7 linked regions of the Homo sapiens genome follow. The protein of the gene in region 7 interacts with the protein of the main gene of each other region in a biochemical or structural test. Each region holds a gene or a part of one and is shown on either strand. Other genes may lie near its edges.

Region 1 (3,309 bases), on a different chromosome or scaffold from region 7:
TGAGGTGGGGCTGGCCGAGACGCCAGCTCACCTGGCCCCCCTCGTGTGCAGGCCCCTATCCAGCAGCCCCCTGGTGCGTGTCAAGGAGGAGCCCCCCAGCCCGCCTCAGAGCCCCCGGGTAGAGGAGGCGAGTCCCGGGCGCCCATCTTCCGTGGACACCCTCTTGTCCCCGACCGCCCTCATTGACTCCATCCTGCGGGAGAGTGAACCTGCCCCCGCCTCCGTCACAGCCCTCACGGACGCCAGGGGCCACACGGACACCGAGGGCCGGCCTCCCTCCCCCCCGCCCACCTCCACCCCTGAAAAGTGCCTCAGCGTAGCCTGCCTGGACAAGTGAGTGCCGCCCACCCCTGGCCCCACCCACAGCGCCTGGACGCACAGCCCTGGGCTTCAGCCCCGACTGTCCCAGTGGACTGAGCAGGGCAGCTGGCGAGGCAGGACCCTACCCCCAACCTCGGAGCTCGGGGCTGGGGAGGGAGACAGGTGCCAGCCAGATCACCCCACAGTCCCAAACGCCACAGAAGCCACGGGCATGTCCGGACAGGCTGCCGGGCCCTGCTCTCAGCCACCCGTCCTGCTGCCGCCACCCTCGCCACAGGCCACGGGCCCTGGCAGGTCGTGCTGCCCAGACACATGGCAGGAGATGGTGAGCAGGGCCGGCCTCCACACCCCCAGCCCCTGCCTGCAATGGGGGCTCTTGTTTTTGTATCTTGCAGTTTGGCTCGCACTCCACAGATGTCTAGGGTCGCCCGCCTCTTCCCCTGCCCCTCTTCCTCTCCGCATGGCCAAGTCCAGCCAGGGTTAGCGCTGACCCCACTGGGGAGGGAGGAGGGCTCTGCCAGCGCTCGGGCCCTCCCACACAGCCGTGGACCAGACCCAGCCTGGCCGGGCATGAGCGTCGGGCCTGGGCGGCAGCAGCCGAGACCCCTCTGTGGCGGGGGCTCAGTGTCGTCATGGCTCCCCTGGCCACGGGCCTGTGGTCATTGCCTGTGACAGGGATGACAGGGACAGGCCTCCCTGCTCTGGCACGGCCTCTGGTGTTGGCAGGATCCAGACTGCGGTGCTGACTGCACTTCCTGTCAGGCAGGGTCTCCAGGGCACCTCTGGGACCCAGCCTGGCTGTCCGTCCCATAGCCCAGGTGTGCCCTGTGGCCTAGGGCTTTCTTGGTCACAGCCACCAGACCGTGGGTCTCATCCCCACAGCAGCACCAGGGCAGGGACTGAGCCACCCACACACTGAGCAGAGCCCCACCTGTTTTCCCAGTGCAACGGGAAACCTCACCAACCCTGAACACTGAAATCCCTGATCCTTGTGCTGGAGCTGAATACGCCCCTTGTCTCCTGGGTCCACTGCCACCAAGGCCCCCAGGCCCTCATGGCAAAGGGATGCCCAGCATAGGCCCAGCCGCACCCCTGCAGGGCACAGAGCCTCCACTGCCTTCCAGGCCGTCCTCGAATGCGCTGCCCCCTCCAGCCTGTGCAGGCGTACACGGGGGTGCAGCCTGGGGGGTACAGTCAAGGGGAGCCCTTCTCCCACAGGAGGGCATTGGGGTGTGGGGCCTGGGGCACTGGTTCAGGTACCGCCTTATCCCGGGCCAGGAATGAGCTCAGTGACCACTTGGATGCTATGGACTCCAACCTGGATAACCTGCAGACCATGCTGAGCAGCCACGGCTTCAGCGTGGACACCAGTGCCCTGCTGGACGTGAGTGGAGCCCCGCCGCCCCGCCTCCCCGCCCCGCCTCCCCGCCGCGCCGCCCCGCCTCCCCGCCCCGCCTCCCCGCCTCCCCGCGCCGCCGCCCCGCCTCCCCGCCCCGCCTCCCCGCGCCTCCCCGCCTCCCCGCCCCGCCTCCCCGCCTCCCCGCCCCGCCTCCCCGCCCCGCCTCCCCGCCCCGCCCCCGGGTGCTGTTCTGACTTCCCTCCCTCCTCCGCAGCTGTTCAGCCCCTCGGTGACCGTGCCCGACATGAGCCTGCCTGACCTTGACAGCAGCCTGGCCAGTGTGCGTAGGCGGGCGGGGGGTGAGGGGGAACGAGACCAGCGGGAGTGCTCACAATACCGTCTCCACCCCACAGATCCAAGAGCTCCTGTCTCCCCAGGAGCCCCCCAGGCCTCCCGAGGCAGAGAACAGCAGCCCGGATTCAGGTGAGCCAAGTCCCACCGGCCCCACCTCTGCCCCCAACCCCCCACCGCCTTGACACCCCCACCCCCGCAGGGAAGCAGCTGGTGCACTACACAGCGCAGCCGCTGTTCCTGCTGGACCCCGGCTCCGTGGACACCGGGAGCAACGACCTGCCGGTGCTGTTTGAGCTGGGAGAGGGCTCCTACTTCTCCGAAGGGGACGGCTTCGCCGAGGACCCCACCATCTCCCTGCTGACAGGCTCGGAGCCTCCCAAAGCCAAGGACCCCACTGTCTCCTAGAGGCCCCGGAGGAGCTGGGCCAGCCGCCCACCCCCACCCCCAGTGCAGGGCTGGTCTTGGGGAGGCAGGGCAGCCTCGCGGTCTTGGGCACTGGTGGGTCGGCCGCCATAGCCCCAGTAGGACAAACGGGCTCGGGTCTGGGCAGCACCTCTGGTCAGGAGGGTCACCCTGGCCTGCCAGTCTGCCTTCCCCCAACCCCGTGTCCTGTGGTTTGGTTGGGGCTTCACAGCCACACCTGGACTGACCCTGCAGGTTGTTCATAGTCAGAATTGTATTTTGGATTTTTACACAACTGTCCCGTTCCCCGCTCCACAGAGATACACAGATATATACACACAGTGGATGGACGGACAAGACAGGCAGAGATCTATAAACAGACAGGCTCTATGCTATGGCCTCCATGTGTTTCCTCTGTCCCAGGGTGGTGCGGTGGGTGGTGCTGCAATGAGGAGGGGCCCAGGGCACAGAAGGGCCGGGCTGCAGTGGCCTCCTGGGGGAAGACGGATGCTTGCAGCTAGCTCCGTGCCTGCCCGACTCCCCAGGACCAGCATGTGCTTGCAGTTCTTTATTGAGGGACCAGGGGTGGGCGCCTCACCTTGGCCCTGGGGGTCTCTGGTTGTCACAGGACCACCAGGAACCCCCTTCCCAAGGTGTTCGCACTCGGACAGGTGATGCGGGGCGGGCACACTGTCTTTCTGCCAGAGCCAGCACCCTGTGTAGGCACGGGGAACGGGAGCCTGTCCCGTAGCTTTAGGGTTCTCCACTCAGCCTGGTGGAGGAAGGGAAGGGGGCCTGCGCTGGGCAGTGGAGCAGGCTTTGCTGCTTTATCTGGCAGCAACAGTTTGTTCTCGAGCTCCACTGGCCAACTGATAGGGAGAGGCACAGGAGCC
Region 2 (3,500 bases), on a different chromosome or scaffold from region 7:
TGCCTTACACTCTCTTGATAGAGCTACTTATTTAAGCATGCAATATATTATTTATTGAGTACATACTACATTACTGTGATTAAGACATGGGCTCAGTAATTCAATTCAGTAGAGGATACAAACACAGGGAATTATCATCTGTTGTGCTGTATGTAATGATATATTCCAAACATTACAGAGGTATAAAAGACAGGTACCAATGAAGTAGGGATGGAGACGTTAGCGGTAAGTACGGAAATGGATTCCTGGAAGAGCTGTCTGAACTGAACGTTTGAGTAGGATTTAGCTAGGGAAAGGATGGGTTTACAGAAGCAAGAAACTGTATGGAATCTACACATAGTTCATCATGTAAGAGAGTAAAGCCACAGGCAGGGAATAACAAGATATTAACACAGCAGTTTCTCAGTAAGTAATAATCTGCTGGCTGAATCCAGGAGACTTTTAAAATCAGACACACCTATATAAGATGCACGTTTCCACTAAACTCATTTCCTCATCCATAAAAATGGTGATAATGATACTTGCCTCCTAGAGTTATCATGAGGTTAAGGGAAATAAATGCATACTTGGCGGGACATATAATGGTGTATTATTATCTTCTCACCTGAGTAGTTGCCAGTCCATTGCTAATACTGAATCCATTAATTGTTATTTGAATCTGTCCTCGGTTAATCATTTCAATAACTGCTTCTGCAATAGTATTCATAGGAATAACAGGCATATTAAGAGCTGTGTTACTGCTATCTGCATTGTCTCCTCCATCAGGACACTTCATCTGAAAAAAAAATGCATCATTAGGGAAAAGATCGTGAATGCAGTTAACTTTATTTCAATGACAATACTGACTAGGTTCTGACCTTGACAATTTTCACATCTGGTAGACTATCAAGAAATGCTTTGAGGTCGATGCCATTCAGAACTATCCGATTGTCATAAATGTGCCCATTGGACTTAAAATCGATGACTGCTTTTTTCTAATGGAAAAAATAGTTTCAGACATGTCTTTTAGGATTTACATAGACAATAGCAAGGAAATAAAAAGCTACAGTTCTTTGAAATTCGTCCATAGCACTGTTTCATACCTACCTTCAGGTGAGGGAACATATTAGCATGATCACCAATAAAAAAAGTGTGGGGCATATAAGCCAATTTCTCGGAATACTGCTCAGCAACTTCAGCTGGCGAAGTTTCCTGATCAGTGATAATATAATCCATGAAAAGCGCACCACTCGTCCCAGGGTATCCCAGCCACATTGCCTTAAAAAAATCAGATCAAAAACTGATTAAGAACTTTTATCAGTACACTTACCTCTAAATTCATCAAGTCACATACATTAAATATGTACAACTTTTTGTATGTCAACTGTACCTCAATAAAGTGGTTTTTAAAAAAAGAACCTAAAGGTGCCAAAATTAAATAAGTAAATAAACAAGGAGGTCTAACTCTTTTTTAGAGACAGGATCTCACTCTGTTCCCTAGGCTGGAATACAGTGGTGCAATCGTAGATCACTACAGCCTCAAACTCCTGGGCTCAAGCAATCCTTCTGCCTCAGCCTCCAGAGTAGCCAGGATTACAGGCACTTGCCACACGCACAGCAAGGCTGACTTCTTTAGCCGAAAGCAATGAAGCAGTTCTATAAGAGAGACTCTTACTCTGTCACCTGGGCTGGAGTGCAGTGGCATAGTGATAGTTCACTGCAGCCTCAAACTCCTAAGCTTAAGCAATCCTTCCACCTTAGCCTCCCAAATAGCTGGGATCACAGAGGCACACCACCACTCTGGCTAATTTTTTAATTTTTTGTAGAGATAGGGTGTTTTGCTTTGTTGCCCAGGCAGGACTCAAACTCCTGGTTTCAAGAGATCCTCCTGCCTAAGCATCCCAAAGTGCTGGGATTACAGGCGTGAGCCACCATACCCGGCCTGTATTTCAGACTAACTTTCAAAATGCTAAAATGTTCTTCAAATTTGCAAGACAGAGTAACTGTTCATAGCCAACCATGAATTGCATGTCTCTATATACATGTACCTATAAGCACTGTGCTCTACACTCTTTTTGTCCTGTGCATTTCAACAACTTAAAAAAATTAAAAGTATGTCTGCCCTACAGTTTCAAATATCAGTTAACCAGAGGGAGGAAAAGCAGCACCTCACTGTATTCTTAGCCAAATACATGTTATAAGTGATGACTGTTAATTTGTTTACCTGAATAGGAGCTGGCCTGAGAGCAAAAAGCTCATTTCGAGCGCCCTTAGTATAGCCATTCATATTTACAAGGATATGAATTCCATCCTGATGGATGCGATCAGCTGCTTTTCCATTGCATGGAATCTACAGAATACAAAATAAGAACTCACTATGTATAATCTCAGATCAATTAGTTTTAATGACATTTAGTTTTAATGGCATTTAGTTTTAATGGCATTTAACATAATTCAGATTCCCAGATGGAAAAGAGGTAAGAACACAAATTAACTACATTAATTCGGGCACAAATATGGTTGACTGTCATTAAAATGGGCCCAAAGCATTAAAGAAACAGAACACAAAGGAAGGAGAGTTCACTTCTGGATTGAATGTATGAATAACAACATATCACAGAGAAATTGGTATTTGAAATTTGTAATCTTTTTTTTTTTTTTGGTAGGGATGGGGTCTCACTATGTTGCCCATGATGGTCTCAAGCAATCCTTCCACCTCAGCCTCCCAAAGGATTATACACGTGAGCCACAGCACCCAGCCTAGAATTGGTATTTGAAAATAGGTCTTCAAAGACGAATAGGAGTTTGAAGGAGTTTAACAGAATACAATCTCAGTAGAGAACAGTATGAATGAAGAACTAGAGTAAAGTGTGAGGGAGTTTAGAAAATGGTGAGTAGGCCGGGCATGGTGGCTCACATCTGTAATCCCAGCCCTTTGGGAGGCCGAGGCAGGTGGATCACCTGAGGTCAGGAGTTCGAGACCAGCCTGGCCAATGTGGTGAGACCCCGTCTCTACTAAAAATACAAAAATTAGCCGGGTGTGGTGGCAGGCGCCTGTAATCCCAGCTACTCGGGAGGCTGAGGCAAGAGAATCGCTTGAACCTGGGAGGCAAAGATTGCAGTGAGCCGAGATCGTGCCACTGCATTCCACCCTGGGCGACAAGAGCAAAACTCCATCTCAAAAAAAAAAAGGGTGAGTAATTCACTTCTATTTAGTATAGGGTATACAAGATGTTGAATGGTGAGTTAAAGTATTGACAAAGTTGTGGCAAACAGAGAAAGGTTACAAAAGCTATGCTGAAGAGTTTAGACTGCAATCAATCAGCAGTGAGTCCCTAAAGGTCTCAGAGGTAGAAAGAGGTATGCTTCTTGGTCACAAAGAGTCCAACTGTGTATCAAAAATGGCCAGGTATACTTTTGAAGCAACAGCTATACTGCAAAATTTGTTAGTACATACTATTTATTAAATGAGAAGTCTCAAAACCTTTCTGCTAGGACTTCAGTGATTCATATATATATAC
Region 3 (3,500 bases), on a different chromosome or scaffold from region 7:
TGTTACTGCACTTCCCAGGCCCCCGTTACACTTCAACAGTCTGGTATTCTATCTCATGGGTCTGTATTTTCCAAAGTGTGGCCCACGGAACCCTGCGTCAGAATCTCCGGAGCTTTCAAGGAGGAAAGTGGGAGTTGCAAAATGCAAATTTCTCGATCCCCTTCAAGAGTGGATAGAGCAGAATCTCTAGGGGTGGGACCTGCAAAGCCTCATTTTTCTCAAGCTCCACAAAGACTGAAGTCTGAGAACCGCAGGCCTCACCCTGTGCCGAGGTGTGCTTAGCTCCCCTGCAGTCTGAGAACTTAGCTTTCCTGCAAGTCCAGAAGCTTCCCGCAGCAATGCCCCTGCCGCTGCCCCAGGCATTTGCTGTAACACATACCTGCTGGCCAGACCTGGAGAAGGGCAGCTCTTTGAAGCACCCATGTAGCCAATGGGCAGCTTGGCCAGTGACGAATAAGCACTAGTTTTCTTTTGTTGTTGTTTTGTTTTTTTGTGGTTTTTTTTTTGAGACGGAGTCTTATTCTGATGCCCAGGCTGGAGTGCAATGGCGTGATCTCGGCTCACTGCAACCTCCGCTGCATGGGATCAAGCGAGTCTCCTGCCTCAGCCTCCCGAGTAGCTGATATTACAGGTGTGCAGCACCACGCCTGGCTAATTTTTGTATTTTTAGTAGAGACTTATTTTAGTAGAGACTGGATTTTTGTATTTTCAGTAAAGATTTCTTTAGTAGAGGTTTTACCATGTTGGCCAGGCTGGTCTTGAACTCCTGACCTCAGGTGATCCACCCGCCTCGGCCTCCCAAAGTGCTGGGATTATAGGCATGAGCCACCGCACCCAGCCAGCACCAGTTTTTAGAATTTGACTTCCATGTCTTTTTTAAAAATAATGTTTTTTATAGAGACGGGGTCTGACTATGTTGCTCAGGCTGGTCTTGAACTTCTGGCCTCAAGCGATTCTCCCACCTCAACCTCCCAAAGTGCCGGGATTATAGACGTGAGCCACCGTGCCCTGCGGATTTCCATGTCTTGGATGTTCCTGAAGTAGTACGCTCTGTGGCAATAGGACAAACGAAGCCTCTTATTTTCCACATAAGGAAACAACAGATGGGGCCTCGGCCTCCAGGGCCTCCAGGCTCAGCCTCTCTGCCTCCTCAGACCTCCCATCCTCCTGCCTCCCTGACTTCAGAGACCCAGGGTGACCAGTGGGCTTGGTGGTGGTGGCTCCAAATACTTTTCATGCCTCTTATTTACAGAGTGGTCGTGGGCAAGTCACCTGACCTCCTTAAGCCTATGTCTTCATCTGAAACATAGGGAGACAGCCAGGCATGGTGGCTCATGCCTGTAATGCCATTGTCCCTGAAGTCAAGGAGAGCACACAGGATTAGAAAGCCCATCAGACAAACACAGCTGCGCAAACTGCACAGGGAAGAGAATTCGGACTGCTCCATCTTCAGGCTGCGAACCCTGTGTGAACCCTGCATTGCAGAAAAGGGTCCTCCCGGCTCTAGAAACACAAGCCAGTGAATGGCCACACACGCAAAGGGAGGCTGCTCCCAGCGAAGTAGGCTCCCGAGTACCTCTCTCAGATCTGGGCCCTGCAGGGGGTGGTCTTCTCTGGACTTGCTTAGTCGCTTAAAGAGAAAAATCCACGAAAGCCTTATTATCATCAGGCTTAAACAGGGCCTTAATGAGTCCTTCACGTGGCAGGCACCCACAGCTGGCCCAGCAGGGGCCCCATTCTGAAACAAGGTCGAGGGGCCCAAGGGGGAGGGTCTCTCCACCTGCAGGCAGCCACCGAAGAGCAGGTAAGACCCAAAGGGAAATGCATCACGTTGTTTCAGGTTGTTACAAAGTGTGAGTCCCCTGTAATCCCAGCACTTTGGGAGGCCGAGGTGGGCGGATCACTTGAGGTCAGGAGTTCGAGACTAGGCTGGCCAAAATGGTGAAACCCTGTCTTTACTAAAAATACAAAAATTAGCAGGGCGTGGTGGCCTGTGCCTGTAGTCCCAGCTACTCAGGAGGCTGAGGCAGGAAAACTGCTTGAATTTGGGAAGCAGAGGTTGCAGTATGCCAAGATTGTGCCACTGCACTTCAGCCTGGGTGACACAGTGAGACTCCGTCTCAAAAAAACAACAACAAAAAACAGAGTGTGAGTCAACTGGCCCGATGTTAAGTGAAAAAAAAACAGCAGGATCCAAACGCTACTTAAAATCCTGTCAAAATTCTGGGAATTATCCCTGGATCACATGTATATGAGAAAAACACCAGGCCAGAAAACACGAAGCGAAAAGACAAAAACAATGGGCCTTAGTGAATGGCCATCCTTGGGGGTGCCACTGCACGGCATGTGTGCGAGAAATGCCACCGCAAAGACACGCAGCAGGTGGTGGGCAGGCTCTGGGCAGCTCCCTCAGGCCAGGGAGAAGCAGAGTCACCAAGATCCAAGATCCAGGCCAGGCTTTGGTCACAGCCCGCAGCAAGTGCCATAGGCTGCCCGTGCCACCAAGGAGCAAGTGCAGGTCAGACACCCCTACATGGTGCAGAGTCTAAACCCAGGGGCCTGGAATACTTCACTGGGGCAATGGAAGAGAGAAGTGCTCGGGCAGGCAGGCAGGCTGTCCCTAATCCCCAAAGAGGACGACTGTTTTTTTTTTTTTTTTTTTGAGAAGGAATCTCACTTTTGTCATCCAGGCTGGAGTGCAATGGTGCGATCTCAGCTCACTGCAACCTCTGCCTCCTGGGTTCAAGTGATTCTCCTTCCTCACCCTCCTGAGAAGCTGGGATTACAGGCGCCCGCCACCACGCCCAGCTAATTATTTTGTATTTTTATTAGAGACGGGGTTTTGCCATGTTGGCCAAGCTGGTCTCGAACTCCTGACCTCAGGTGATCCGCCCACCTTGGCCTCCCAAAGTGCTGGGATTACAGGCATGAGCCACCACGCCCAGCCGCGACTGTTCTTAATAGCACTCCTGGCTGCAAAATAACTCAATGGATGCCTTACTGGGTACTCAAAATTGACTGGGTTTTACTCACAGGAGCCCAGGGCAACGGGCCCAGCCTGTGACTGCTCAGCTAAGACCCTCAGGTTTTGCAGCAGACTCCTAACGTCCCTAGCAAGTTAAGCTGCCCAGGGGTTGAGCCCTGAGTGACGTCACCCATTGTGACTTATCCAGGCTGCTGCTCTGTCTCCAGAGACATTTGTCTCCAGAGTCTCATTTGGGGACTGAAAACATGCCATGCTGGGGCTGCCTCTATGGAACCCTGGACTTGGGGCCAGAGAGGCTCCGAGAGCTGCCACTTAGTAGTCATGTGACTGCATTTTCCTCGGGTTTAAAATGAGCTGGTTAGACTCAGTCAAGCAAACTCTCAGAGGCTCGATTTCTTTCTTTTTTTTCCTTTTTCTGTATTTTTTTTTATCATGCTGCAGAATCAGCCTCAATTTCTTCATTGATAAAAAGTGAGGATTCAGGCTGGGAGTGGTGGCTCATGCCTGTAATCCC
Region 4 (3,803 bases), on a different chromosome or scaffold from region 7:
TCCTCCTGTATATTATCGAAGGGGATTAAGAACTTTTCAGAGAATTTAAAGGACTAAACGTGATTGCCATTTACCAAGCATTCAATACCTGCTTAGCACGAGACTGAGACAAGGTCTCTCCCTGCCTGTGCACTGCCCCCTTAGACACTGTCACATATCCAAGTCCCAGGCATTTCCTATCATTTTTATATATGGCGTTAGGCTCAGAATGCAAATCCTATATGCTATCTAACCAAGTTTTGTCTCTAGAACCACCAAATTTCAGAAGTGAAGACTTTTATTTAGCCATTACCACCCCCAGTCCCCAGAGGGACTCTTACCTATTGGGCTGATTTTTTCATCTTTTTTTTGAGATGGAGTTTCGCTCTTGCTGCTCAGGCTGCAGCGCAATGGTGCAATCCCAGCCCACCGCAACCTCCGCCTCCCAGGTTCAAGCGATTCTCCTGCCTCAGCCAGGATGGCTTTAAGTAGATTTGTAAAGAACTTTGAGACACTGTAAGGCCAAGGAATTAAGTGACTGTATTTAACACAGAAGGTATTCCATGAATAACATCAAAACAACGTGGACACTAAGAGAACACATGTAACTCATGGACGCAGGGGATGCATGTTGTCTGCATTCCTGTTTTCTGTGCCTACGTGTGCTCCACCCCACACCTGCTGAGTACATGCTGGGAAGACCATGTCAACCCTTGGAGCAGCTAGTGTTTAACCATCTCCTGCTAGCGCCTCATGTTTTACATTTTGGCACTAACTGTCATCCAGATACTCCCCTTTCCCCCTAAATAAGACACTGTCACACAATATCTTTTAACTCATCTGTATTTGTTACAACTTTAAGCAGAATGTGACTCGAGCACTACATTTCCATCCACAAGACTGGGTCTGAGTTATTTTTGAACAGCTTTACGATATGCTTAGGTAGGCTTTTAACTTTGCTCCTCCAAACAATACTTTTCTTTGGAAAACAAGCCCTGTGGAGAGATCCTTCCATCAAGTTGCTTCAGTTTAACCTATTTCTAGAGGACTAGTACATGCAGAATTGTCAACTACAGGGAATGAAAAGTTCAAAAAGTAGATCCTACAAGATGTAACGAATACTTTTCTAAACATCAAGATACAGCTCAGAACACTTCAATAACAAGATTTGGTCTACTTAGGCATCCGGCTTGACAGCTAAACACTTTAGACCACAAAGTTAACATCATGTTACATACGTCTTACAGTGCACGTTACCCCAATCTGTGAAAATAAACCAACATGAAACTCAAAAAGCATTACTAGCTCTGCTTTAGTGCCTAAGGTATCACAGCATCACTTAGTAGACAGAAATCTTATCTTCCCCTTAAAGTAGTTGTCATGCCATACAGACTTTTTAATATTAACAAAAATAAAGAAAAACATCCTTGAAAATATATTATCAGAGGAATTGTAGAGTACTGAACAGGTAAGTCATCCCTCAGCCAGAGATTAGTCTACTTCTTCCATGCGTGATGTGTCGTCATCTCCTTCAAGGGGTGGCATTTCTTCAGTTACAGCAGCACTGGTATCATCAGCAGTAGGGTCATCTTCATCAATACCTGTTTCCAAAATAAAATCCTCATATTACAAAGATTTCTTAAAGCCAGCTATTAGGGTAATACTCTTGGTTTCTATCTGCTTTCAAGACAGTATTACAGGACATATGAGTCTCAATTTCATTTCTTTGCTCTTGTAAGACCTTACTTATCCCTAAAAAAAACATACTTTAATACCTCCAAGCAGCAAGCAGGACAAGGTGCTCCAAGTTTGGATAACTGAAAGTTCACCATTTTCTTCAATGTCACGTGTGTTTATTTTCTTTTTAACATTACATAGTATAAGGCTTACCCAGACCAAGTTTGATCATCCTGTAGATCCTGTTAGCATGTGTCTGGGGATCTTCCAGACTGAAGCCAGAAGACAGGAGCGCAGTTTCATAAAGCAAGATGACCAGATCCTTCACAGACTTGTCGTTCTTATCAGCCTCTGCCTTTTGCCTTAAGGTCTCAATAATGGAATGGTCAGGGTTTATCTCCAGGTGTTTCTTTGCTGCCATGTAACCCATTGTTGAGTTGTCTCTTAGGGCTTGAGCTTTCATGATTCTCTCCATGTTTGCTGTCCAGCCATATGTGCTTGTGACAATACAGCATGGAGATGTCACCAATCGGTTTGACACAACCACCTGTAATCAAAAAGTGATGACTAGGAACCTAGAAAGATTAATTCCTAAACTTTCATTGTGAAATGAAATCTGTAGAACCCAAATTTCAATAGATCCAAAATACTATCTACTGTCAAATACAACTTAAATGTCGCATTAGGTATCCAAAGAGCACAGGTTATAATTTCATGTTTTACATGCACAATTTTTTTTTTGAGATAGAGTCTCGCTCCATCACCCAGGCTGGAGTGCAGTGGTGCGATCTTGGCTCACTGCAACCTCCGCCTCCTGGGTTCAGGCGATTCTCCTGCCTCAGCCTCCCAAGTGGCTAGGATTACAGGCCGTGCCACCACGCCTGGTTTATTTTTTTCTATTTTTAGTAGAGACTGAGTTTCACCGTGTTAGCCAGGATGGTCTCGATCTCCTGACCTTGTGATCCGCTGCCTCAGCCTCCCAAAGTGCTGGGATTGCAGGCGTGAGCCACCGCGCCCAGCCACACACAACATAGTTTTCTGTTTTAAGTTGAAAACATGCGAAAATGGGCTATGTATGACTAAGCTTGAAAGCACCTTAGAAGTATCAATGATCAGGAAATGCTGTATTCACATACCTTTTCAACTTTTTTCTCCAATATGTCTTTCATGATTTTGCAGAGGTTCTCAAACTTTGTTTTTTTCTCTTCCTGCTTCTTTTTCTCTTCTTCATCCTCTGGAAGTTCCAGGCCTTCTTTGGTGACTGACACTAAAGTCTTCCCCTCAAATTCCTTCAGCTGTTGGACACAGTACTCATCAATGGGCTCAATCATATAGATCACTTCTAAGCCATGTTTCCGAAGACGTTCCACAAAGGCTGAGTTAGCTACCTGGTCCTTGGTCTCACCTGAGGTATTACAAAGTTACTTTTAGACCTTTTAACAGTTAAGAATGGTTTCATCTAGCTCTGACTTTTCTTGCTAGCCAGATACCTAGGCAGAACCTAAGACAGAAAATGACCTAGTTCATGTTAATTATCTTGCCTAGATCAATACCAGTTGTAACAGTGCTACCTGAGTAGAAAACACACCCACAGAGCCTACAAGATTGTAAGAACGACGTGTATGACTGTAACATAGTGTTCTCTTACCTGTGATATAATAGATATGTTTCTGGTTCTCCTTCATTCTGGTGCAGTAGTCCTTGAGAGAAACCATCTCATCACCAGAGGCAGATGTGTAGTACCTTAACAGCTCTGAAAGCTTCTTCCGATTTTGAGAGTCTTCGTGTATTCCAAGCTGAAACAAAGTATGTTCTTTACAAAGACTTTCTGAATTAAAAAAAAAAAAAAAAAACTAAAGAGGCCAATTGGAAAACTAATGGTTATTTACACCAACCTTTATGTTTTTAGAGAACTGCTCATAGAATTTCTTGTAGTTCTCTTTATCTTCCGCCAGTTCAGTAAAGAGTTCTAAGCATTTTTTGACCAAATTCTTCCTGATAACTTTCAAAATTTTGCTTTGTTGCAACATCTCACGGGATATGTTTAGAGGGAGATCCTCCGAGTCTACCACCCCTCTAATGAAGTCTGAAAAAAATATAAACCAAATGCACTGAGTCATTCCAAGGACAAAACTGGTACTATGTAA
Region 5 (3,500 bases), about 120 Mb from region 7:
CAGATGAACTGATGGACAACACAGAACATGTGTCAAAAAAATAACAATTCAAATTTTTACGTCATTGCCACATAACCCTGGATATCAGTTTTTATAACTTGAATAATGTAATTTGAAAATACTGTTCTTCAATATTCAAAACTCCTCTTTAGGAACATGTAGAGACTGAGCATGGTGGTTCATGCCTGGAATCCCAGCACTTTGGGAGGCCAAAGCAGGAGAATTGTTTAAGCCCTGTAGTTTGAGCCCAGCCTGCACAATATAGCAAGACTCCATCTCTATAAAAATGCTTCTTAAAAAAATTAGCTGAGAATGGTGATGTGTGACTGTAGTCCTAGCTACTTGTAAGGCTGAGGTGGGAGAATCACTTGAGCCTAGGATGTCGAGGCTGCAGTAGGCTATGATTGATCATGACAACTCCAGACTGCGTGAAAATCAGAGGAACACAGAAAAAAAAAATGTAGAAAGAGAGACAATCAGAGGAACACAGAAAGGAAACTGAAAATGAACAGTAAGAAAATTCTAGGAAAACCAAGAAAATAAGGAAGTAAAATGCTTTAAGAAAGTAGAAAGCTAAAAAAAAATGTAGGAAGAGAAGAGGAACACAGAAAGGAAGCTGAAAATGAACAGTAAGGAGATTCTAGGAAAACCAAGAAAATAAGGAAGTAAAATGCTTTAAGTAGAAAGGTTTATGGAGAGGATGATCAAGAATGGCAAATGGGGCAGAGAAGTCCAACAAAGCAAAGACTGGTTAAGTGAATTCAGACCTGACAAAGCAGACTCTTAGCAAGGAGTTTCCTTAGACAGGTACAGGCACAAGCCAAAATTCAGCAGATGGAATGTAAGGAGATGAAAATGAGGGAAGGCATTCCTTTGAGAACTTGGAGGAGAATAGGAAAAGATACAGATAGGGTGGCAGCTGAAGAATATAAGACCCAAGAAAATGAATTTTTTAGAATGAAGAGACTTGAGAAGGCCTCGTGTAGACTGAAGGGCATGGGCCAGGAGAAAGGGAATGTTTGAAAGCACAAAGAGGAAGATAAAAGAATAAAGCCAAGAAGGAAACTAGAGGAGTTGGGATTAAAAACACAGGTAAAAGAAATTGCCTCAATGAAGACAACTTGAAGAAGACTGGAAGGAAGGAGGTAAGGAAAGTAGAGGAAGATGAGTTTGCATCTCTCGCCAGACCAGACATAGGAGTAGATGTTATATTGGCCCAGGACTTGGCAGGCATGTGCAATCAAATAAAGGTGGAATAAGAGCCCAGCACAGTACCTGGCATGTAGTTGGCACTCCATAATATATTTAAATGAATGGAGAGAGTGTTCAAAGTTGTATAAGAAAGAAAGGTAGGCAGACATTGAAAGTATAGATGGAGTGAAGGTTCCTGTGAACATTTTTTAAAAAATGAAAATCCTAAGATGAGCTAAAGTCAATTGATGATAGCCCTTCCAGCAGGGTCTCTTGGCAAAGGAAGCTCAAGCTTCCTGCTTCCAGTCCCCACCCAAATACCCGAACCACACTGACTTTCACTGGCGCTCCCCTTCACAAGCCCTGTCTTTCCTTTTAGCCCAAATTGTATAACCTCTCCCTGCCTTCTCAGTCATTATTATGGTTCACAATTTTGTGGTAGTGGTTCTCAAACTACATTTGCCATAATATTCACAAAATATTGGCTCCTTGGGTTGAGTACGTCTGACTTTGCCAATTTCGTCCATTCTAAATAACTTAGTTCTGAGGTTGGCAGCCTCAAATAGGAATTCTTTATTTTTTAATGTTCATTAGAGAGCACTGGCTCACAGTTTTCAATTCTAGTTCATATTCTGTTACCCATCTCTTTCCATTTCACCACCATGCTGTTGAACCCACCCCCATCAACCTCAAATCTTTTTATTGCTTGTTTACTAATATCCTATGCATGATTCAAGTCAGTAGGAAGCAGCTATGAATATCTAACTGTAGAAGCTTAGTGCCTTTGGAGGTGGGAGTAGATATTTAGCAAGCATGAAATTGATAGATTCAATGTCTTATAAGCCTTATTAATTGTTATATCTAGCTCAGTGCCCAGCACATAGCAAGCATTCAATACATGTTTGTTGAATGAATGAAGGAATAAGTGAGTGAACAGTATACGCATGGCCAGAAGTTCCAATGTGTCAAGTATCTTCCCACCCACGCCTACATAATAAAATGCTATATTTTTTAAATTGTGGTAAGATATATATAACACAAAATTTACCATCGTAACCACGCTTAAGTGTTCATCAATTCAATCATGTTAGATATACTCACATCATCGTGCAACCAGTCTTCAGAACATTTTCATTTCACAAAACTGAAACTCCATACCCATTCAACAATAATTCCCCATTTTCTCCTTCCCCTATCCCCTAGCAGCCACCAATCTACTTTTGTTCTCTGTGAATGTGGCAATTCTAGATACCTCATTAAGTGAAACCCTACTTTTGCTTTTTGTGTCTAGCATATTTCACTTAGGATAATGTCCTGAAGGTCCATGATGTGACTAATATGCCATTGTCTGTATATACTACACAGACTTTGTTTACCCATTCATCCATCTATAGACATCTGGATTGCTTCTACTTTTTGGCTATTATGAATAATGTTGCTATAACTATGAGTATACAAATATTTCTTCAAGACCCAGATTTTTAATTCTTTTAGATATATACCCAGAAGTAGAATTACTGGATCATATGATAATTCTATTTTGATTTTTTGAGGAATCACCAGTGTTTTCCACAGTGGCTGCACCATTTTACATTCTCATGAACAAGGCACAAGGTTTCTATTTGCTCTATATCCTCTCCAACACTTACTCTCTTCTTTTTCTAATATAGTAGCCATCCTAATGAGTGCGAGGGGAATACTGCATTTTTATGTCTTTTGCCTGAATGCCTCCCTTACCAGCCACTCCTAATCCCCATAAACTTGAATCAACATCCCTGTTCTGAACTCTCTAGAAGATTTTTTTATTTCTCTTCTGCTACTTACTATATTAATCTTCAATTGATTAATTCTCATTTCCATTACTATCTGCAAAGTTCTTGGTGTCTTATTCATCTTTAAAATGCCATGTGCTTAGAGCATAGTGCCTCACTTGGAATAGGGACTCAACAACATTGATATCAAATGACTGAATCAATAAATGTATAGTTTCCACAATATAGATAGAATATGTAAATACTATTTTTATAAATATTGACAAAAGATTTAATAGCGAGAGCCCATTTTCCTCAGAAATAGCAAAGATGTATGCTGTCAGCAAAATGCCATTCATCTACATTTTATCTCTAAGATGACCCCCAGCTTACTGAAAATCAACTGCAGACTTTGGGCATAGAAATAGAAGGCATCTAAAGAAGACGGGGAAACTACATGGGCTATATTCACTAACCATAAAGGAACTTTTTTAGCCAACTTAGAAATCCATGTAAATAACATTGTCAATTATCATTTTGGCCCAGACTTACTCCATA
Region 6 (4,283 bases), 8.6 Mb from region 7:
TGCTCTGCCACCTTCCAGACTCACTCCCCTCTGCAAATACCTGCATTTCTTACCCTGGTGAGAAAAGCACAAGCGGTGTAGGCTCCAATGCTGCTTTCCCAGGAGGGTGAAGATGGTGCTGTGCTGAGGAAAGGGGATGCAGAGCCCTGCCCAGCACCACCACCTCCTATGCTCCTGGATCCCTAGGCTCTGTTCCATGAGCCTGTTGCAGGTTTTGGTACTTTAGAAATGTAACTTTTTGCTCTTATAATTTTATTTTATTAAATTAAATTACTGCAGTGGACTTGGTCCTGTGTTTTGGTTGACTGAAAGGGCATTATTATATGGTAGTTTTTCCAAACTGCCTTTAGCTTCAGTGTGTGAACTCTTAAGACTCACTGGTATTCTGTTATTTTCACTACAAAACCAGCTCAACTTGCTGTGCTCATGAAAACAGCAAGAGCTGGAGGGATGAAGAAGCTAGGGAAGGATAACATCCACTTCACAAGGGAAAGCAGAACTGTATAAAAACGGCATATTCTTTATTTTGCATACTTTAATTTCAGAACAAAATGAAGAAAATAAAATAAACCACAATACACAACATCCAATCCTGCTGTCAAGAGTAGAGAGGGAATGGGGCTTGACACCCTTAGTTTACTGCCTTCAACACAAGGACAGGAGAGGGAAAAAAACACTAGACACCAGCAGGGGGAGCCAGGTGGGACAGGGGCACTCGAGGCTGCAGTGGGAGCCCATGGGGACACTATACAAGGGCACAAGTTTTCCAACTATGAACTCCTAACCTAATCGACTTCTTCCATGCGAGACGCATCCTCATCGCCCTCGAGAGGGGGGATCTCATCAGGAACTGCAGCATTGGGTTCCTCTGCTGCCACTTCATCTTCATCAATACCTGAAGTAAAATTAAGCCATGTGAGACTTGACCAAATAGCATTAAGTCAAATCCATAGAGGAGACGAGTTGCACAAACTCCTTGCCACACCAAGTACCAAAGCTACTTACCTAGACCTAGCTTGATCATGCGATAGATGCGGTTGGAGTGGGTCTGGGGATCCTCAAGGGAAAAGCCAGAAGATAGCAGGGCGGTTTCAAACAGCAGCACCACCAGGTCCTTAACTGCCTTATCATTCTTGTCGGCCTCAGCCTTCTGCCGCAGCGTCTCCACAATGGGGTGGTCAGGGTTGATCTCCAGGTGCTTTTTGGCCATCATATAGCCCATGGTGGAGTTGTCCCGAAGTGCCTGGGCTTTCATGATCCGCTCCATATTGGCTGTCCAGCCGTAGGTGCTGGTCACAATGCAGCAAGGTGAAGACACAAGTCTATTGGAGATTGTCACCTGTGGACGATCACAAAAGCCTTAGATTGACATTACCACTTTGAAAGAGAAAACAGGCATTGTCAAGCCTAATTCCAGCAGGGGGAGGAGGTGGACAGACCACTTGAGTTTGAGACCATGCTGGCCAACATGGCAAAACCCTGTCTACAAAAAATTAACCGGGTGTGGTAGCACACATCTGTAATCCCAGCCACTCAGGAGACTTGAGTTTGCAGTGAGCGAGATCCAGTCCAAAAAAAAAAAAAATCGGCCAGGCATGGTGGCTTGCGCCTGTTAATCCCAGCACTTTGGGAGGCCGAGGTGGGCGAATCACAAGGTCAGGAGATGGAGACCATCCTGGCTAACGCGATGAAACCCCATCTCTACTAAAAATACAAAAAATTAGCCGGGGTGTGGTGGCGGGCGCCTGTAGTGGCAGCTACTCAGGAGGCTAAGGCAGGAGAATGGCGTGAACCCAGGAGGCGGAGCTTGCAATGAGCAGAGATCGTGCCACTGCACTCCAGCCTGGGTGACAGAGCGAGACCCCATCTCAAAAAAAGAAAAAAAAAAGAAAATGATGGTATTTTATCTACTCTCAGAAGTTAACTGAAGCAATGCCTAATCTGTGCCAAATTTTATTAAAATAGCCTTAAACCTGACTAGAGAAGAGAACAAGAGGCAAGAAGGCATGAAACAGTAAATAGGCTGCCTCAAACCACTAATTGTATAGAAACATGCTTGTGAGGGAGCCCACCTCGAAGATGTTACAAAATATATCCTAGCCCCAGAATGGCTTACCTTCTCAACCTTCTTATCTAAGATTTCTTTCATGAGCTTGCAGAGGTTCTCAAACTTTGCCTTGCTCTCTTCCATCTTCTTCTTCTCCTCCTCATCCTCAGGCAGCTCCAGACCCTCCTTGGTAACTGAGACCAGGCTCTTCCCATCAAATTCCTTGAGCTGCTGCACACAGTACTCGTCAATGGGCTCGGTCATATATACCACCTCGAAGCCCCGTTTCCGCACTCGCTCCACAAAAGCTGAGTTGGCCACCTGCTCTTTGCTCTCACCTGTAGGGTAATTAAATGAACTCAGTGACTAAAATGCCTCATACTGCCAGTTCCCAGGAAGCCCTAATTGTGCTCCCCACTCCTCCAAAAAGGCTTCAATCAGAGTCAACGCACCAGTGATGTAATAGATGGACTTCTGTGTCTCCTTCATGCGAGAAACATACTCTGACAGAGATGTCATCTCATCTCCAGACTGGGAGGTATGATAGCGCAGCAGCTCAGACAGGCGGCGGCGGTTAGTGGAGTCTTCGTGGATTCCAAGCTTGAAGGGTGGGAAGAGGAAAAACAATCCAGCTTAACTACAATAACTTCACTTTCAATGTGAATGGAATAATTTATTGTTATTACTAAGAAAGTGGTAAAGGGAATAAGCATTATTTGCCTTTTTACCTTGAGATTTTTAGAGAATGCCTCATAGAATTTCTTGTAATTCTCCTTGTCTTCTGCCAGCTCAGAGAAGAGCTCAAGGCACTTCTTAACAATGTTTTTGCGAATGACTTTCAAGATTTTGCTCTGCTGGAGCATTTCTCGGGAGATGTTCAGGGGCAGATCCTCAGAGTCAACCACACCACGGATAAAATCTGCCATCAACCAGGGTGAGAAAGCTCAGTAAAAAACAGCTAGACCAGACCTGGTCCCCAGATTCAAACAGAAGGCTCTAATAGCCTCCTGAACCCTTACACCTACTATGTATTGCAGAAAACTGTTACCTTAGAATATCCTAGCAGAATGCCTAAAACCTCCCAAGACTTCACCCAACTAAATTAGGCCAAGGAGATACTCACTGAGATACTCTGGTATCAACTCATCACAGCTGTCCATGATGAACACACGGCGGACATAGAGTTTGATGTTGTTCTTTTTCTTCTTGTTCTCAAAAAGGTCAAAGGGAGCCCGACGAGGAATAAATAGCAATGCCCTGAATTCCAACTGACCTTCTACAGAAAAGTGCTGAAAGAAACCAAAAATAAGTGGTACATTTCAAAAGAGGACCTTTTAGCCCCAACACCAAATTATCTAAAAGTGGAACAATGATCCTCCCTAAGCCTAAGGGATAGAGCACACACAACAAGCAGCTCCTGAGAAAACTGAGCCTTAATGCCCTCCACGATCTAGATGGGTACTAGCTGTATGTAGAAAACAGTCCCCTCTGATCAGAACCCTGGATGTGTAAGGCTGCCAATAGACATTACCCAGATTTCCATAAGAAGAGAAAGTGAGGTCATTAGAAATGATGGCACTTCACTATGACAGGGTAATCAGTAAGTGAAATCACATGGCTATCACATTTCTGTTATCAGTTGGACAAGTTCCGTGTGTCTATTACCCAACACTCTTCCACCTAACTCATTCCTCTCCATATGTGCATGTTGAGCCAACATGCAAAGGCTTCTCACACCTTGACTGCCAAGTGGTCTTCCCAGTCATTAGTGAGGCTCTTGTAGAATTCTCCATACTCCTCTTGGGTGATGTCATCAGGGTTTCTGGTCCAAATAGGCTTGGTCTTGTTTAGTTCTTCCTGATCAATGTATTTCTCTTTGATCTTCTTAGTTTTCTTCTTCTTATCCTTACCGCTGTCATCCTCCTCATCTGAACCCACATCTTCGATCTTGGGTTTTTCTTCATCATCTTTATCTTCCTCTTCTTTCTCACCTTTCTCTTCCTCTGCCTCATCATCACTAATTTCCTTCTCTCGTTCCTTCTCCAACTAAGTAACAAAAACAGAAGTTAGCCTTGGAGTACAAAACACTACCAGGGAAAGCAAAAGCCAGGGACAATGAGATTCTCCAGAACAGGAAACATCCTGCACGTTAAGTGTAAAAGATTTAAAAGTCCATACTCACATAAAGGGTGATGGGATAGCCTATGAACTGAGAATGCTTCTTCACTACTTCTTT
Region 7 (3,500 bases):
AGAACACTTACCATGAATGGAACTTGCAGGACTGGAAGTTGTTCTGGATGAGTCAGCGAGTGAGCAGTGAGTGAACATGAAGGCCTAGGATATTACCATACACTACCGTAGACTTTATAAACACTGGACACCTAGACTACATTTATTTTAAAATTTTTCTTCTTTCTTTAATAATAAATCAATCTTAGCTTACTATAACATTTTTACTGTGTAAACTTTTTTTTTAGCTTTGACTCTTGTAATGACACTTAGAACACAAACACTGTACAGCTGTACAAAAATATTTTCTTTCTTTATATCCTTATTCTATAAGCATTTTTCTGTTTTTTAAATTTTTTATTCTTTTACTTTTTAAACTTTTTTTTGTTTAAAACTAAGACACAAACACATACATAAACCTAGGCCTACAGAGGGTCAGGATCATCAGTATCACTGTCTTCCACCAACACATCTTGTCCCACTGGAAGGTCTTCAGGACAGTAACATGCATGGAGCTGCTGTCTCCTATAATAACAATGCCTTCTTCTTGAATACCTCCTGAGGGACCTGCCCAAGGCTGTTTTTTGTTTGTTCATTTGTTTTTGAGACAGGATCTCACTCTCACCCAGGCTAGAATGCAGTGGTATGATCATAGTTCACTGCAGCTTGGAACTCCCAGGCTTACATGATCCTCCTGCCTCAGTCTCCTGAGTAGTAGAAACTACAGGTACATGCCACTATGCCTGGCTAATTTTTTTAATTTTTTTTCTACAGATAGGGGTCTTACTATGTTGCCCAGGCTGGTCTTGAACTCCTGGCCTCAAGTGATCCTCTTGCTTTGGCCTCCCAGGGTGCTGGGATTACAGGCATGAGCCACTGCACTCAGCCAAGGGTGTTTTACAGTTAACTTTTTAAAAAATAAGAAGCACACTCTAAAATAATGATAGAAAGTATAGTAAACACATAAACCAGTAATATAAACATTTATTATCAAGTATTATGTACTATACATAACTGTGACTGCAGTGCAGTAGGTTTGTTTACACCCACATCACCACAAACACATAATACACTGTACTACCCATGCTACAACAGCTATGGCACCACTAGGCCATAGGAACTTTTCGGCCCCATTATAATCTTATGGGACCACTGCTGAAGGTGCAGTCTGTCACTGACTGAAATGTCATTATATGGTGAATGACTGTATAGTGCTTTAATAAGTAGGAAAGCTAATTCAAAAGTAAGATATATTCTAAGAGGAAATCGCAAAAGATATCTTCACTGTACACAGGAACAATATTTATATATAAAAATAAACCCCTTTGGGCCGGGCACGGTGGCTCATGCCTGTAATCCCAACACTTTGCGAGGCCAAGGCAGGCGGATCACCTGAGGTCAGGAGTTCAAGACCAGCCTGGCCAACATGGTGAAACCCTGTCTCTACAAAAATTAGCGAGGCATGGTAGCAGGCGCCTGTAATCCCAGCTACTCGGGAGGCTGAGGCAGAATTGCTTGAATCCAGGAGGCGGAGGTTGCAGTGAGCTGAGATCATACCACTGCACTCTAGCCCAGGCAACAGAGGGAGACTCTGTCTCAAAATAAAATAAAATAAAATAAAATAAAATAAAATAAAATAAAATAAAACCCCTTTGAATTTTTCAAGTTAGCTTTTCTTTCCTTAAAAAGTCTTCAAAATTGTCATTAGCTAGCTTTAGTGTACTAAAAGGATACATTAAAATAGTAACCTATTTGTATACTCTGAGAATAGGGAAATATAGCCCTTTAGAGTGAGATATAACTTGGACCTGAACCCCAGGTAAATCTGCATTACTAAGATATATGATATTAGGCAAGTTAATTTACCTAGCCCAGTCTCAATTTCAACATCTATAATCTGGGATTAAAAATTAAAATCTCTAGCTGGGCACAGTGGCTCGTGCCTATAATCCCAGCTACTCAGAAGGCTGAGGTGGGAGGATTGCTTGAGGCCAGGATTTCAAGACTTGCCTGAGCAACATAATGAGATGCCCTCTCTCAAAAATTTAATTAATTAATTTAAAAAGAAAATCCCAGCTACTCAGGAAGCTGAGATGGGAAGATCACTTGAACCCAGGAGCTCAAGACCAGCCTGGGCAACATAACGAGACTCAACTCTTAAAAAAAACCTTGAAGTTATGAAGACAAAATGAGAATCTAGCTCTAGTGTTTGGCACTTAGTAACCATCAATAAACATTATCCACCCCAGCCCCCCTCAGAAAGAGATGCTATAATCTTTCCAGACAGCAGGTTTCCTTGTATGTCACTCAGCTTTGTGGCCTCACCTTTAATACTCCCCTGTCTTTTTTGGAGGTAATATCCTCTCCCTGCTCAGCAACAGTGGCTGTGGGGCTTTCTTCATTGTTCTTGGCACCTTCATCAGTAGTCATTGTCTTTTAAGTAGAGAACCTGGTAAGAAGAAAAATATTTTAGCTGGGAAAAATATCACTTCTTTATGAATCTTGAATGTCCCTGGGAACTGAGCTCTACCTAACCTAAGATTTACTTAGGGCCAATAAGCTTAGATACTGAAAATGAAAACAAAGGCATTTGCTATGAGCATGTATTGATGTCATCAGGCATGTAAATAAAACATCATCCAATTCTTTAATTTCCCATCTAGCTCTGGTCTCAAAACAGAGAACAGTACAAGTCAAGTTGGGTAGTGATTACATTCCTTAACATAACATGGTGAGAAGCAGTCCCTTCACAACTTTGAAAACATCCTTTTTCTACAGCCATATTCTTGACAGAGGATTAAGACCTTATCAGTTCTTAATAAAAGAAGTGACAATATATCAATCACAGTGAGACACAGAACAGGATTTAGAATCCAACAGACCCAAGTCTGGGTCCTAGCTGCAGCTCTTGACATTTCCAGTTTCCTTAATCTTGCTGAGCCTTCATTTTTCATCTGCAAAATGGACACAGTACACTATTCATAGTTACAGTGAGATAACATTTCTTAAAAGATTAGCATAGATTGGTAACTTAAACATATTTAACCATTTATCATCATTATTGGGCCTTCTGTAGGGTCATTTTTCATCTCCTGCCCAAAATACCTACAGAATGTTCTTCCATGTGGCATTCAAGGCCCTTCACAATCTGGCCCTAATCTATCTTTGAGTTCTAGCTGCCATTATTTTATTTTACTTTCTTTCATGCAGCTCATGCTCCAGCCAAACTAGGCCAATTCCACCTCTACAACAAACCCAGTGCTTTCCCATAGTCATTCTTCTGGTCACTCCCTTTCTTGTTTCCAAAACATCCACCTCTCTCAAATCCTACTTCTGTCATACCAACCTTGACCCTCTATTTGTAGGCCATTTTGCCCTTTTACGTACTTCCTTAGCTCTTCTCTCGATTTGTTGTCTGTAAGAGATTCATAAGACTATGCGCCTGTTAGGTTTAAAAGATCCTTCAGAGCAAGGTCCATGCTTTGTTCATATTTAGATTCCCTAGAATGCCTCTACCTTTG

The links.
Region 1: the proteins of FKBP5 (region 7) and HSF1 form a complex in vitro, tested with the Homo sapiens proteins (one study listed by BioGRID).
Region 2: the proteins of FKBP5 (region 7) and OGT form a complex in vitro, tested with the Homo sapiens proteins (one large-scale study listed by BioGRID).
Region 3: the proteins of FKBP5 (region 7) and MAPT form a complex in vitro, tested with the Homo sapiens proteins (2 studies listed by BioGRID and IntAct, with this or other methods).
Region 4: the proteins of FKBP5 (region 7) and HSP90AA1 form a complex in vitro, tested with the Homo sapiens proteins (5 studies listed by BioGRID and IntAct, with this or other methods).
Region 5: the proteins of FKBP5 (region 7) and ESR1 form a complex in vitro, tested with the Homo sapiens proteins (one study listed by BioGRID).
Region 6: the proteins of FKBP5 (region 7) and HSP90AB1 interact in a biophysical measurement, tested with the Homo sapiens proteins (2 studies listed by IntAct).

What each region holds. Positions count from the first base shown.
Region 1 is NC_000008.11:144,311,912-144,315,220, forward strand, and holds the end of HSF1 (heat shock factor protein 1), read left to right. Parts: intron 1-51; coding exon 52-333; intron 334-716; coding exon of another isoform or gene 717-800; intron 801-1,599; coding exon 1,600-1,705; intron 1,706-1,934; coding exon 1,935-2,000; intron 2,001-2,073; coding exon 2,074-2,143; intron 2,144-2,213; coding exon 2,214-2,419; 3' UTR 2,420-2,809; downstream 2,810-3,309. UniProt on the Homo sapiens protein: Functions as a stress-inducible and DNA-binding transcription factor that plays a central role in the transcriptional activation of the heat shock response (HSR), leading to the expression of a large class of molecular chaperones, heat shock proteins (HSPs), that protect cells from cellular insult damage.
Region 2 is NC_000023.11:71,560,604-71,564,103, reverse strand, and holds part of OGT (UDP-N-acetylglucosamine--peptide N-acetylglucosaminyltransferase 110 kDa subunit), read right to left. Parts: intron 2,330-3,500; coding exon 2,204-2,329; intron 1,258-2,203; coding exon 1,087-1,257; intron 975-1,086; coding exon 858-974; intron 776-857; coding exon 605-775; intron 1-604. UniProt on the Homo sapiens protein: Catalyzes the transfer of a single N-acetylglucosamine from UDP-GlcNAc to a serine or threonine residue in cytoplasmic and nuclear proteins resulting in their modification with a beta-linked N-acetylglucosamine (O-GlcNAc).
Region 3 is NC_000017.11:45,992,054-45,995,553, reverse strand, and holds part of MAPT (microtubule-associated protein tau), read right to left. Parts: intron 1,631-3,500; coding exon of another isoform or gene 1,577-1,630; intron 1-1,576. UniProt on the Homo sapiens protein: Promotes microtubule assembly and stability, and might be involved in the establishment and maintenance of neuronal polarity.
Region 4 is NC_000014.9:102,080,242-102,084,044, forward strand, and holds the end of HSP90AA1 (heat shock protein HSP 90-alpha), read right to left. Parts: intron 3,743-3,803; coding exon 3,552-3,742; intron 3,453-3,551; coding exon 3,305-3,452; intron 3,062-3,304; coding exon 2,793-3,061; intron 2,204-2,792; coding exon 1,870-2,203; intron 1,581-1,869; coding exon 1,471-1,580; 3' UTR 501-1,470; downstream 1-500. UniProt on the Homo sapiens protein: Molecular chaperone that promotes the maturation, structural maintenance and proper regulation of specific target proteins involved for instance in cell cycle control and signal transduction.
Region 5 is NC_000006.12:151,838,682-151,842,181, reverse strand, and holds part of ESR1 (estrogen receptor), read right to left. Parts: intron 1-3,500.
Region 6 is NC_000006.12:44,250,101-44,254,383, reverse strand, and holds the end of HSP90AB1 (heat shock protein HSP 90-beta), read right to left. Parts: coding exon 4,230-4,283; intron 4,094-4,229; coding exon 3,785-4,093; intron 3,337-3,784; coding exon 3,171-3,336; intron 2,967-3,170; coding exon 2,776-2,966; intron 2,648-2,775; coding exon 2,500-2,647; intron 2,386-2,499; coding exon 2,117-2,385; intron 1,340-2,116; coding exon 1,006-1,339; intron 896-1,005; coding exon 786-895; 3' UTR 501-785; downstream 1-500. UniProt on the Homo sapiens protein: Molecular chaperone that promotes the maturation, structural maintenance and proper regulation of specific target proteins involved for instance in cell cycle control and signal transduction. Undergoes a functional cycle linked to its ATPase activity.
Region 7 is NC_000006.12:35,640,416-35,643,915, forward strand, and holds part of FKBP5 (peptidyl-prolyl cis-trans isomerase FKBP5), read right to left. Parts: intron 2,429-3,500; 5' UTR 2,410-2,428; coding exon 2,305-2,409; intron 1-2,304. UniProt on the Homo sapiens protein: Immunophilin protein with PPIase and co-chaperone activities. Component of unligated steroid receptors heterocomplexes through interaction with heat-shock protein 90 (HSP90).